Regions from separate parts of the Homo sapiens genome. Here all the other regions are linked to region 1. The links come from fine-mapping of genetic effects on gene expression. A gene starts in region 1. Each other region holds a variant in brackets. All regions are shown on one strand. Distances are between the middles of the regions.

The links.
Region 2: its variant is fine-mapped to the expression of POLR3D in whole blood (TOPMed, PIP above 0.99).
Region 3: its variant is fine-mapped to the expression of POLR3D in whole blood (TOPMed, PIP 0.99).
Region 4: its variant is fine-mapped to the expression of POLR3D in whole blood (TOPMed, PIP above 0.99).

What each region holds. Positions count from the first base shown.
Region 1 is chr8:22,243,976-22,246,735 of GRCh38, reverse strand. It overlaps POLR3D (RNA polymerase III subunit D), which reads right to left and starts at 1,603. Exons shown (of 9, transcript NM_001722.3): 1 at 1,553-1,603; 2 at 1,122-1,291. The coding sequence starts at 1,286. It overlaps MIR320A (microRNA 320a), which reads left to right and starts at 1,699; the gene lies at 1,699-1,770. RefSeq lists enhancers at 330-499, 1,624-1,693, 1,161-1,828 and a silencer at 1,134-1,313.
Region 2 is chr8:22,342,604-22,345,103 of GRCh38, reverse strand. The region is part of intron 20 of PIWIL2 (piwi like RNA-mediated gene silencing 2); the gene reads right to left. Among named protein-coding and RNA genes, the nearest start is that of SLC39A14, 23 kb to the left of the region's middle. The variant C/T (reference allele first, on the strand shown) is at 1,495.
Region 3 is chr8:22,276,099-22,278,858 of GRCh38, reverse strand. The region is part of intron 1 of PIWIL2 (piwi like RNA-mediated gene silencing 2); the gene reads right to left. Among named protein-coding and RNA genes, the nearest start is that of PIWIL2, 2.2 kb to the right of the region's middle. RefSeq lists an enhancer at 2,618-2,760. The variant A/G (reference allele first, on the strand shown) is at 1,546.
Region 4 is chr8:22,289,670-22,292,169 of GRCh38, reverse strand. PIWIL2 (piwi like RNA-mediated gene silencing 2) reads right to left here. Exons shown (of 23, transcript NM_018068.5): 9 at 2,243-2,323; 10 at 1,824-1,937. Among named protein-coding and RNA genes, the nearest start is that of PIWIL2, 16 kb to the right of the region's middle. RefSeq lists a silencer at 1-134 and an enhancer at 298-467. The variant T/C (reference allele first, on the strand shown) is at 998.

The sequences.
Region 1 (2,760 bases):
GTTGTGGCTCATGCCTGTAATCCCAGCACTTTGGGAGGCCAAGGTGGGTGGATCACGAGGTCAGGAGTTCAAGATCAGCCTGGCCAAGATGGTGAAACCCGTCTCTACTAAAAACTACAAAAAGTAGCTGGGCGCGGTGGCGGGCCCCTGTAATCCCAGCTACTCGGGAGGCTGAGGCAGGAGAATCGCTTGAACCCGGGAGGCGGAGGTTGCAGTGAGCTGAGATGGTGCCTCTGCACTCCAGCCTGGGCGACAGAAAGAGATTCCCTTAAAAACAAAACAAAAAACCAAAAAACCGCTTTATTCGGCCAGGAGCGGTGGCTCACACCTGTAATCCCAGCACCTTGGGAGGTCGAGGCAGGCGGGCGGATCACGAGGTCAGGGGTTCAAGAACAGCCTGGCCAACATGGCAAAACCCTGTGTCTACTAAAAATACAAAAATCAGCTGGGCATGGTGGCGGGCGCCTGTAATCCCAGCTACTCAGGAGGATGAGGCAGGAGAATCGCTCAAACCTGGGAGGCAGAGGTTGCAGTGAGCTGAGATCGTGCCATTGCACTCCAGCCTGGGGGACAACGGCGAGACTTCCTCTCAAAAAAAACCAAAACCAAAACCAAAACCTGCTTTGTTCTTCTGTCATCCTGACCCCACCCCTTTCTGGGCTACTCTTGACATCCACAGTCATATACACATGGGAGAGGCCACAGAGCCTCGAATGCCATACCTAGGATTCATCATACTCTAGATAAAAAGTTTGCACACAGAGATGGTGAATTCTGAACCCTCTAAGACTGCGAAGTTTATGCCTGTCTGGCTTTCATGGGTTTCTTAAAGATGTCCAAACACACAATAAAAGTAAATAAACACTGTTCAAATTGCTTTTGAACGACTTTAACTTATTAGGATTCTCTGCCCTTCAACCACCTCTGGGAGTCATTTCAACATCTTGTACTCAGTACCTAGATTTGAAGGTAGGACAGACTCCCTAGAATTTAAAGAGGGGTAGGCTTGAGAGGCCCAACGACAGTCCTGACACACAGTAGGTCCTACACAAACATTAGTTGAATCCTGGGGCTTGGAATTCAAGGTAGTTGAGTTTCTTTAGAAACGCGCCGTTGGGTACCTTCTTGACTCCCCCGAGGGTGAGGTCCCTGGAACGGATGGAGGGAAGGCGGCCGGGGGTGAGGGGAGGCGCCGGCCGCCGCCCGATGAGCCCCCGGGCCCCAGTCAGGAGAGGTCGGGGCCCTCCCGGCGTGCTGGGCTCGCCGGCGGCGTTTCCTTCCGACATGTTGCCTGGGAGAGAAGGGGCGACGAGATCACCAGAGGGGACTGACACGCGGACCCTGGCGGAACCCCACCCCCTTGCTTTCCGGTCCCCCAGTCGGTGCGTCCCTCCAGTGGCCTCTCAGCTCCTCCCCTCCCACGTGGCGAGACTCCCGGGACCACCCAGGTGAGAGCCTTTGGCTCGCGACACGCCCTCTCCAGGAACCCCGCCCAGGAACCAGACAGGGACGCACCCGGGCCGCGGCTCCACACCGCGCGTCACAACCTCACCTGCAACGCGACCAGCCGCCAGCCTTCGGTCTCCGCGCCGGGCGGAAGTCTGCGTGGCAGGGCCTGGGCGCCGCCATCTTGGCGCGGGGCGGAAGTGACGTTAGGGGGGCGGGACTGGGCCACAGTATTTATCAGGCGGCGCTTCGCTCCCCTCCGCCTTCTCTTCCCGGTTCTTCCCGGAGTCGGGAAAAGCTGGGTTGAGAGGGCGAAAAAGGATGAGGTGACTGGTCTGGGCTACGCTATGCTGCGGCGCTCGGGGGTCTTGGCCTCCGGGCGGTGGCGTGGAGGCGCCAAGATCAGGGTCCCGGGTTTTGTCGGCCACCACGCCGCAATGTGAGGATTCGCCTCGGCGGAGCCCCTGGGAGCTTCGGGGTAGCTGCTCGGGATGGGGCGAGGGGCGCGGCGCGGCGCAGAGAGTGAGACCTGGACTTAAGAGTCGGGGAGTCCTGGGCCACACCGAGCCCTGTCTGCGGGTTCTCCATGGTGACCTTGGAGTGGTCATTACCTCCGGGCAGCGACCTCGCCCACTTTCGGGGACCCCTTCCCTGTGCTCCTGGTGGAGTCCTGGGGTGAGGCTGTGGGGGCAGCTTGGAACAGCCGCAGTGGACCAACCGGTGCCCAGTCATACCCGCTTCTGATCACGAAGGCGGTGGCCCTCGTGTGCGCTCTTGGTCAAAGCCTGGAGGGAATTGGAATACCAAGTTTGCTCTACTGCTGGAGGAATTTAAAGAACTTTTGTTGACTCCAGCGTTTGTGATTTAACATAAAAGGTGTCATTTAATGTTATCCCCCATCCCCCAGACCGTATAAAAACCATGTAACAATATTATGGGGAGTTTGAGGAAAGGAAATCATTTCTACCAGAATGCCACGTAGAGTACTACTATTAAAAATTTTGTAATGTATCTAGTAGTCTTCACAGAGTTGTCGTATCACAATTTCGTGTCCTTTTTCTTTTCTTTTCTTTCTTTTTTTTTTTTTTGAGACGAGGTTTCTCTCTGTTGCCCAGACGGGAGTGCAGTGGTGCGATCAACACACCGCAACCTCTGCCTCCCAGGCTCAAGCCATGCTTCCACCTCAGCCTCCTGAGTAGCTGGGACTACAAGTGCATGCCACCACGCCCGGCTAATTTTTTCTTTTTCTTTTTTTTTTTTTTTTTTTTTTTGTATTTTTCGTAGAGACGGGGTTTCACTATGTTGCCCAGGCTG
Region 2 (2,500 bases), 98 kb before region 1:
CGGGTTCAAGTGACTCTTCCACCTTATCTTTAAGAGTAGCTGGGACCACAGGCTTGCACCTCTAAGCCCGGCATGCTTAACTTTTTAAGGAACTGCCCAACTGTTTTCCAAAGTAGCTGCATTATTTTATTTTACAATCCCATTAGCAATCTATGAAGTTTCCAATTTCTCCATGTCCTGGACAAGACTTTTATTACTTGTCTTTTAAATTTTATTTTAATCTTTTCTTTAAAAGGGTCTTACTCTGTCACCAAGGCTGGAGTGCAGCGGCACAATCACGGCTCACTGCAGCCTTGACCTCCCAGGCTCAAGTCATCTTCCCACTTCAGCCTCTTGAGTAGCTGGGACCACAGATGTGTACCATCATGACCAGATAATTTATTTTCATTTTTTATTTTTGTAGAGATAGGGGTCTCCCTATGTGGCCCAGGCAGTCTCAAACTCCTGGGCTCAAGCAATCCTCCCACCTTGACCTCACAAAGAGCTGGGATTACAGGCATGAGCCATCATACCTGGCCTCTTTTAAATTTTAGATATCCTCGTGCATACGATATGGTACCTCATTGTGTGTCTGTATGTTTTTAAATTAAGAGACTATTTTTTAGAGGAATCTTCAAGTTTACAAAAAAACCTGAGGCAATAGAACAGAGTTCCCATATGCCCTCCTCCCACCTCCTATCCCCACCCATAAACAGTTTCCCCTTTTGTTATCATATTGCATTATGGTACACTTGTTACAACTGATGACCAAATGTTGATACATTAACTATACTCCACAGTTTACATATTTGTGTTGTACAGTTCTATGGGTTTTGACAAATGCATAATGTTATCTAGTTTCAGTGCCCTAAAAATCCTGTGTGCCACCTATTCCTTTCTCCCCCTTCCAAACCCTTGACAGCCACTTTTTACTGTCACCACATTTATGCATTCTCTAGAATGCCATTTATCATACAGTTAGAATCATATAAAGCCTTTTCAGATTACCATCTTTCACTGAGCAATATGTATTTAAGATTCCTCCATGTCTTTTCATGGCTTAATGGCTTATTTCTTTTAACACAATATTCCATTGTCTGGATGCATGACAGTTTATCCACTCACCTACTGAAGGACATCTCTGTTTCCAAGTTCTGGCAGTAATGAATAAAGTTGCTACAAACATTCACGTGCAAGTTTTTGTGTGGGCGTAAGTTTTCAACTTATTTGGGAAAATATCAAGGAGCGTGATTGTTGGTATGTGTATGTAAGTGCACATTTAGTTTAGTAATTAGCTGCCAAACTGTTTTGCAAAGTGGTTGTACCATTTCCATTCTCACCAGCCGTGAGTGAGCGTTCCTATGGCTCTACACCCTCACCAGCATTTGGCATTACCAGTTTTTGAATTCTGATCATTTATAGGTGTGTAGTGGTATCTGATTGTTTTAATTTGCAGTTCCCTAAGGGCAAGTGATATTGAACACCTGCTTGTATGCTAATTTGCCATCTATCTAT[C/T]TACCTATTTTTGAGACGGAGTCTCGCTCTGTCACCCAGGCTGAAGTGCAGTGGTACAATCTCAGCTCACTGCAACCTCTGCCTCCTTGGTTCAAGCAGTTCTCCTGCCTCAGCCTCCTGAGTAGCTAGGATTACAGGCATGCGCCACCATGCCCAGCTAATTTTTTTTTTTTTGAGATGGAGTTTCGCTCTTGCTGCCCAGGCTGGAGTGCAATGGCACAATCTCGGCTCACTGCAGCCTCTGCCTCCCAAGTTCAAATGATTCTCCTGCCTCAGCCTTCCCGAGTAGCTGCGATTACAGGCATGCGCCACCAGGATTACAGGATTACAGTCATGCGCCACCACACCCGGCTAATTTTGTATTTTTAGTAGAGACGGGGTTTCTCCATGTTGGTCAGGTTGGTCTTGAACTCCCTACCTCAGGTGATCAGCCCACCTCGGCCCCTCCCAAAGTGCTGGGATTACAGGTGTGAGCCACTGCGCCTGGCCTAAGTTTTGTATTTTTAGTAGAGACGGGGTTTCACCACATTGGTCAGGCTGGTCTCAAACTCCTGGCCTCATGATCTGCCCGCTTTGGCCTCCCAGAGTGCTGGGATTACAGATGTGAGCCACCACACCCGGCCTTATCTACCTATACTCTTTGGTGAGATGTCTGTTGAGGTATTTTGCTCATTTTCTAATTGGGTTGTTCATTTTCTTACTGTTGAGTTTTAAGAGTTCTTTGTATACTTTATAACAGTCCTTTATCAGATACGTGTTTTGCAAATATTTCTTCCTAATCATGGCTTGTTGTTTCATCCTCTTATCAGTGTTTCCCAGAAGTTTTTAAATTCGATGAATTTTCGATGAAAAATTTATCAATTTTTCCTTTCATGGGCTTTTGGCATCATATCTAAAAAGTAATCACCAAACCCAAAGCCACCTAGATTTTCTATGTTATCTTCTGTAAGTTTTAGAGTTTTGCATTTTAAACATAGGTCTATAATTTGTTTTAATTTTTGCAAAA
Region 3 (2,760 bases), 32 kb before region 1:
CAACCTAGATCCCTCCAATGCGAAGTTCACAAGAGGGTTTGCACAATGAGAATCTAATGCCACCAGTGATCCGACAGGAGGCAGAGCTCAGGTGATACTACAAGCCATGGGGAGCAGCTGTCAATACAGATGAAGCTTTGCTCATTTGCCAATCTCTCACCTCCTGCTGTGCAGCCCAGTTCCTAACAGGCCCCCCAACCAGCCTGTGGCCTGGGGGTTGGGAACCCCTGCCTTAGAGGCCCGTGTCCTCCTTGAACTTACTTATATTTTCTACCCAAATAGCCTCTCACAAAACTCAGTCCTGTGAGTTAACTAGCTGTTGTATAAGGAAGCAGTTTTTTAGGAGGGTCTCCTTCTGTCGCCCAGGCTGGAGTGCAGTGGCATGATCATGGCTCACTGCAGCCTTGACCTCCTGGGCTCAAGTGACCCTCACATCTCAGTCTCCTGAGTAGCTGGGACTACAGGCATGCACCACAACACCCAGCTAATTTGTACATTTTTTGTACAGACGGGGTCTTGCCACGTTGCCAAGGCTGGTCTCAAACACCTGGGCTCAAGAGATCTGCTGCCTCAGCATCCCAAAATGCTGGGATAATAGGTGTGAGCCACTGCACCTGGCTAAGGCAGTTTTTATGTATGAGGATGACTTTGGTTTATAAACAATTTCTTTTCCTCCCCCCCTTTTTTTTTTAGACGGAGTTTCACTCTTATTGCCAAGGCTGGAGTGCAATGGTGCAATCTTGGCTCACCGCAACCTCTGCCTCCTGGGTTCAAGTGATTCTCCTGCCTCAGCGTCCCGAGTAGCTGGGATTACAGGCATGCAGCACCATGCTCGGCTAATTTTGTATTTTTAATAGAGACGGGGTTTCTCTATGTTGGTCAGGCTGGTCTCGAACTCCCGACCTCAGGCGATCAGCCCACCTGGGCCTCCCAAAGTGCTGGGATTACAGGTGTGAGCCACTGTGCCTGGCCTATAAACAATTTCATAGTTAACACAGCCATATCATAAAATTATTGTCAACAAATATTTATGGGTTTTTGCTTTGTTTTTGGCCTCTCTTTCCTACATAAGAGTCCTAACTTTTTTCCAGTCTATGATTGCACCAAATTCTCTTCCTTGATCTGTTTAGCTGCTTCTCCGAATCTCTATCCAATTCTTTTTTACAAAATTCTTCCTTCAGGCTGAGCACACACACACAGTGGTTCATGCCTGTAATCCCAGCACTCTGGGAGGCCCAGGTGGGAGGACCATTGAGGCCAGGAGTTTGAGGCCAGTCTTAGGAACACAACGAGACCCTGTCTCTACAAATAATTAAAAAATAGAAAAAAAAATTTTAAAAACTCTCTTCTTTCAAACTCCATCAGAAGTCTCCAGAGTACACAGTCTTTCTGCTTTGAGCCTACAATACTTGCTCAGTCTCACAGGTTGCATTTAACACCCTTCTCTCTCCCAGGTTACCCGGGGTGAGGCTCTCCCTGGCTTCCCTACCAAATCTAAAGCCCATCAGGTCTCTTCAAAATCACTTCATAACCTGTAGGTCGGGC[A/G]TGGTGGCCCATGCCTGTAATCACAGCACTTTGGGAGGCCGAGGCGGGTGGATCACTTGAGATCAGGAGCTCAAGAGCAGCGTGGCAAACATGATGAAACCCTGTCTTTACTAAAAATACAAAAATTAGCCAGGCATGGTGGTGCATGCCTGTAATCCCCCCTCCTCAGGAGTCTGAGGCACAAGAATTGCTTGAACCCAGGAGGCGGAGGTTGCAGTGAGTCAAGATCGTGGCACTCCAGCCTGGGTGACAGCACAAGATTCTGTCTCAAAAAAAAAAATATATATATATATATCACTTTATAACCTACAGATTTCAAGACTCCCTCTTTAAGGGGCTCCTCTCATTGTCCTGACTTGCCCCTGATTCCTGAAAAATATTTCTTAACGGAAAAGAATTTTTTTTTTTTAAGAGACAGGGTCTTGTTCTGTCATCCAGGCTACAGTGAAGTGGTGGCATCTTAGCTCACTGCAGTCTCAACCTCCTGTGCTCAAGCAGTCCTCTTGTCTCAGCCTCCCAAGTAGCTAGGACTTCAGGCACCTGCCACCATACCCAGCTAATTTTTAAAAAAAATTTGTAGAGACGGGATCTTGCCATGTTGCCCAGGCTGGTCTCAAACTGCTGACCTCAAGTGATCCTCTCACCTCAGACTCCCCAAATGCTGGGAGAAGCCTCTTCTTAACTTTCAAAAAGCTGTCTTGGCCGGGGGTGGTGGCTCGCGCCTGTAATCCCAGCACTCTGGAAGGCCAAGGTGGGCAGATCACAAGGTCAGGGGTTCGAGACCAGCCTGACCAAAATGGTGAACCCTCATCTCTACTAAAAATACAAAAATTAGCTGGGCATGGTGGCCTGCGCCTGTAATCCCAGCTACTCGGGAGGCAGAGGCAGGAGAATCGCTTGAACCTGGGAGGCGGAGGTTGCAGTGAGCAGAGATCACGCCACTGCACTCCAGCCTGCGCTACGGAGCGAGACTCCGTCTCAAAACAAACAAACAAACAAACAAAAAAGCTGTCTTAAGTATTAGCTACAGAGAAATCATACATTTAAAGAAAATATTAACACACAATTCATAAACCCACAGCGTAAGTGCAGACAGTTCAGGAACTTGCAAAATTTATTGAACTAAACTATCCTCTTTCACACTCTAAACGCAGGATATGACTCCCTTTCTTGAAGGCTATATTTAACTGCTAACACCCCTTTTCGGTGAGCCAG
Region 4 (2,500 bases), 46 kb before region 1:
CATTTGCTCTGCCCCTCCATCACCCTGCTTGCTCACTCGGCTCTAGCCACCCTGCATGTGCCTGCACCAGGCCTGTTTCTGTCTTAAGGTCTGTGCCTGAGCTGTCCACATGCCAAAAGCTTCTTCTCCCTTCACCTGGCTAACCTCTTACCTCTTTCAAGCGTTTGCTCAAATGAGCTTGACCACTCCACTTAAAACTGCAATTCTCCGCCCCCTGCCCCACTACTTCTGATTGCCCTGACCGTGTGCTCTTTTTCTTTTTTCCATGGCTCTTATCGCTTTTATTACACTATACAATTTATTTATTACATTTATTATTTACTGTTCATCTCCCCTGGTAACAACAGAGGCTCTGTGAGGGGAGGGATCTTTGTTTTGCTATCTGATAGGTCCTAAGACTCTGGTTCATAACTGGAGCTCAGTAAGTATACACTGAAGCAATGAATGAAATGGTCAGAGGAGCAAAGATTTACAAGCCCGATAACACCCAGTGGTTGTACATAGCTGGTGGGAAAAGAAACTGAATAAATCTTCTACAGGGTAATTTGTCAAGATACAGTTAACTATCATATTATATTAGATATATATTAAAAGGATTTAGAATGTTCAGCCCTTCCATTAAGTAATTCTACTTCCAAGTACATGGCCTAAAAAAATCAGATGTACAGACTTATGTGTAAGATGAGATTTCATGCAACCACTAAAAATTATACACATCTGGCTGGGCACGGTGGCTTGTGCCTGTAATCCCAGCACTTTGGGAGGCTGAGGCGGGCAGATCTCCTGAGCTCAGGAGTTCAAGACGAGCCTGGGAAACATGGTGAAACCCTATCTCTACTAAAATACAAAAAATTAGCCAGACATGGAGGCATGCACCTGTGGTCCTGGCTACTCGGGAGGCTGAAGCAAGAGAATTGTTTCAACCCAGGAGGCAGAGGTTGCAGTGAGTTGAGATCACACTACTGCACTTCAGCCTAAGCAACAGAGAGAGACTCTC[T/C]CTCAGAAAAAAAAAAAGAAAAGAAAAGAAAAAAAAATTAGCCGGACATGGTGGCGGGCGCCTATAATTCCAGCTACTCAGGAGGCTGAGGCAGGAGAATCACTTGAACCCAAGAGGTAGAGGGTGCAGTGAGCCAAGATTGCACCACTGCACTCCAGCCTGGGTGATAGAGTGAGACTCTGTCTCAATTAAAAAAAATATATATACACATCTGTATTTACTACAGTAACACATACATTGTATATTATTATATGCAAACTCAGCATGCGCATATATCAAACCAAGTTCTCCTAACCACAAATTTAAACAAAACTCCTTCTCAAAGCACAGCAGATGTCTATTCAGATGCTTATCTCAGGAGGACTAGAGACGAGGGCACATATATTCAGTTCAGTTATTCTACAACTAAAAATCTAAACAGGGCTGGGTGCCATGACTCATGCCTATAATCTCAACACCTTGAGAGGCTGAGGTAGGAGGATCCCTTGAAGCCAGGAAACATAGCAGGCTGGGAAACATAGCAAGACCCTATCTCTACAAAAAAAAAAAAAAAAAAAAATTAAAAATTGGCTGGGCATGGTAGCACACCCGTAGTCCTGGCTACTCAGAAGGCTGAGGTGGTAGGATCACTTGAACCCAGGAGTTCAGGGTTACAGCGAGCTATGATCAAACCACTGTACTCCAGCCAGGGTGACAAAACAAGACCCTGTCTCTGGGGGAAAAAACAAACAAACAGAACAATGTCTAATGTGTGTTATTACCAGCTGTTACTGAACTTTTCAGAAAATCATCAGCATGTTAAAGATAGACCCCACCATTCACTCACATGACATCCAGCACACAGTCATTCCGAATGACCTTATGGGAGACATCAGCTAGCAGGAAGAGCCCTCCATCTGTCCTTCGGATGCTAGCTGCATAGCCTGGCCAGATCTGCAATCTGGAGAGAGAGGTGGTCTCAACTGTAGGATTTTCAAAGAACACATATACTTCCATGCCCCCATGTGAACAAAACATTGAGGTGATACTGCCCTTCCCTAATAGTAATGAGAAAGCCTCAAGAAACTAAGTTAATTGACATTATTGCAAACTTACTGAAAAACCAAACTAAGGAAGAGATTTAATTGATAAACTGTATTCACTACCATAAACTACTGCTGACATTATAGTACTAAATACAATGGTTGTAATGGAAACTTTCTTTCCAGAACATTCAAAAGTGAGGGAAGGGAAAAAAGTACCAACCTGTGTTGCTGTAGTACCATAGCACTTGTAGGGTCATAAAAGTTTCTCCCCACAAGCTTCATATCTAAAAGTTTCATTACCCTGAAATAAAAAGCAAGTATGAGTTTTCTAATAGAAGAGTAATAAAATTATGTTCCATTATTCTTAGCTACATTTGCCTTTGGAAGTCTGAACGGTTAGAAATGTTTGTGCTCTTTGCAGAAGACAGCTTTTATATTGAGAACAATCTTGTTAAAAGAAAACCAAAAACTGCCAAAG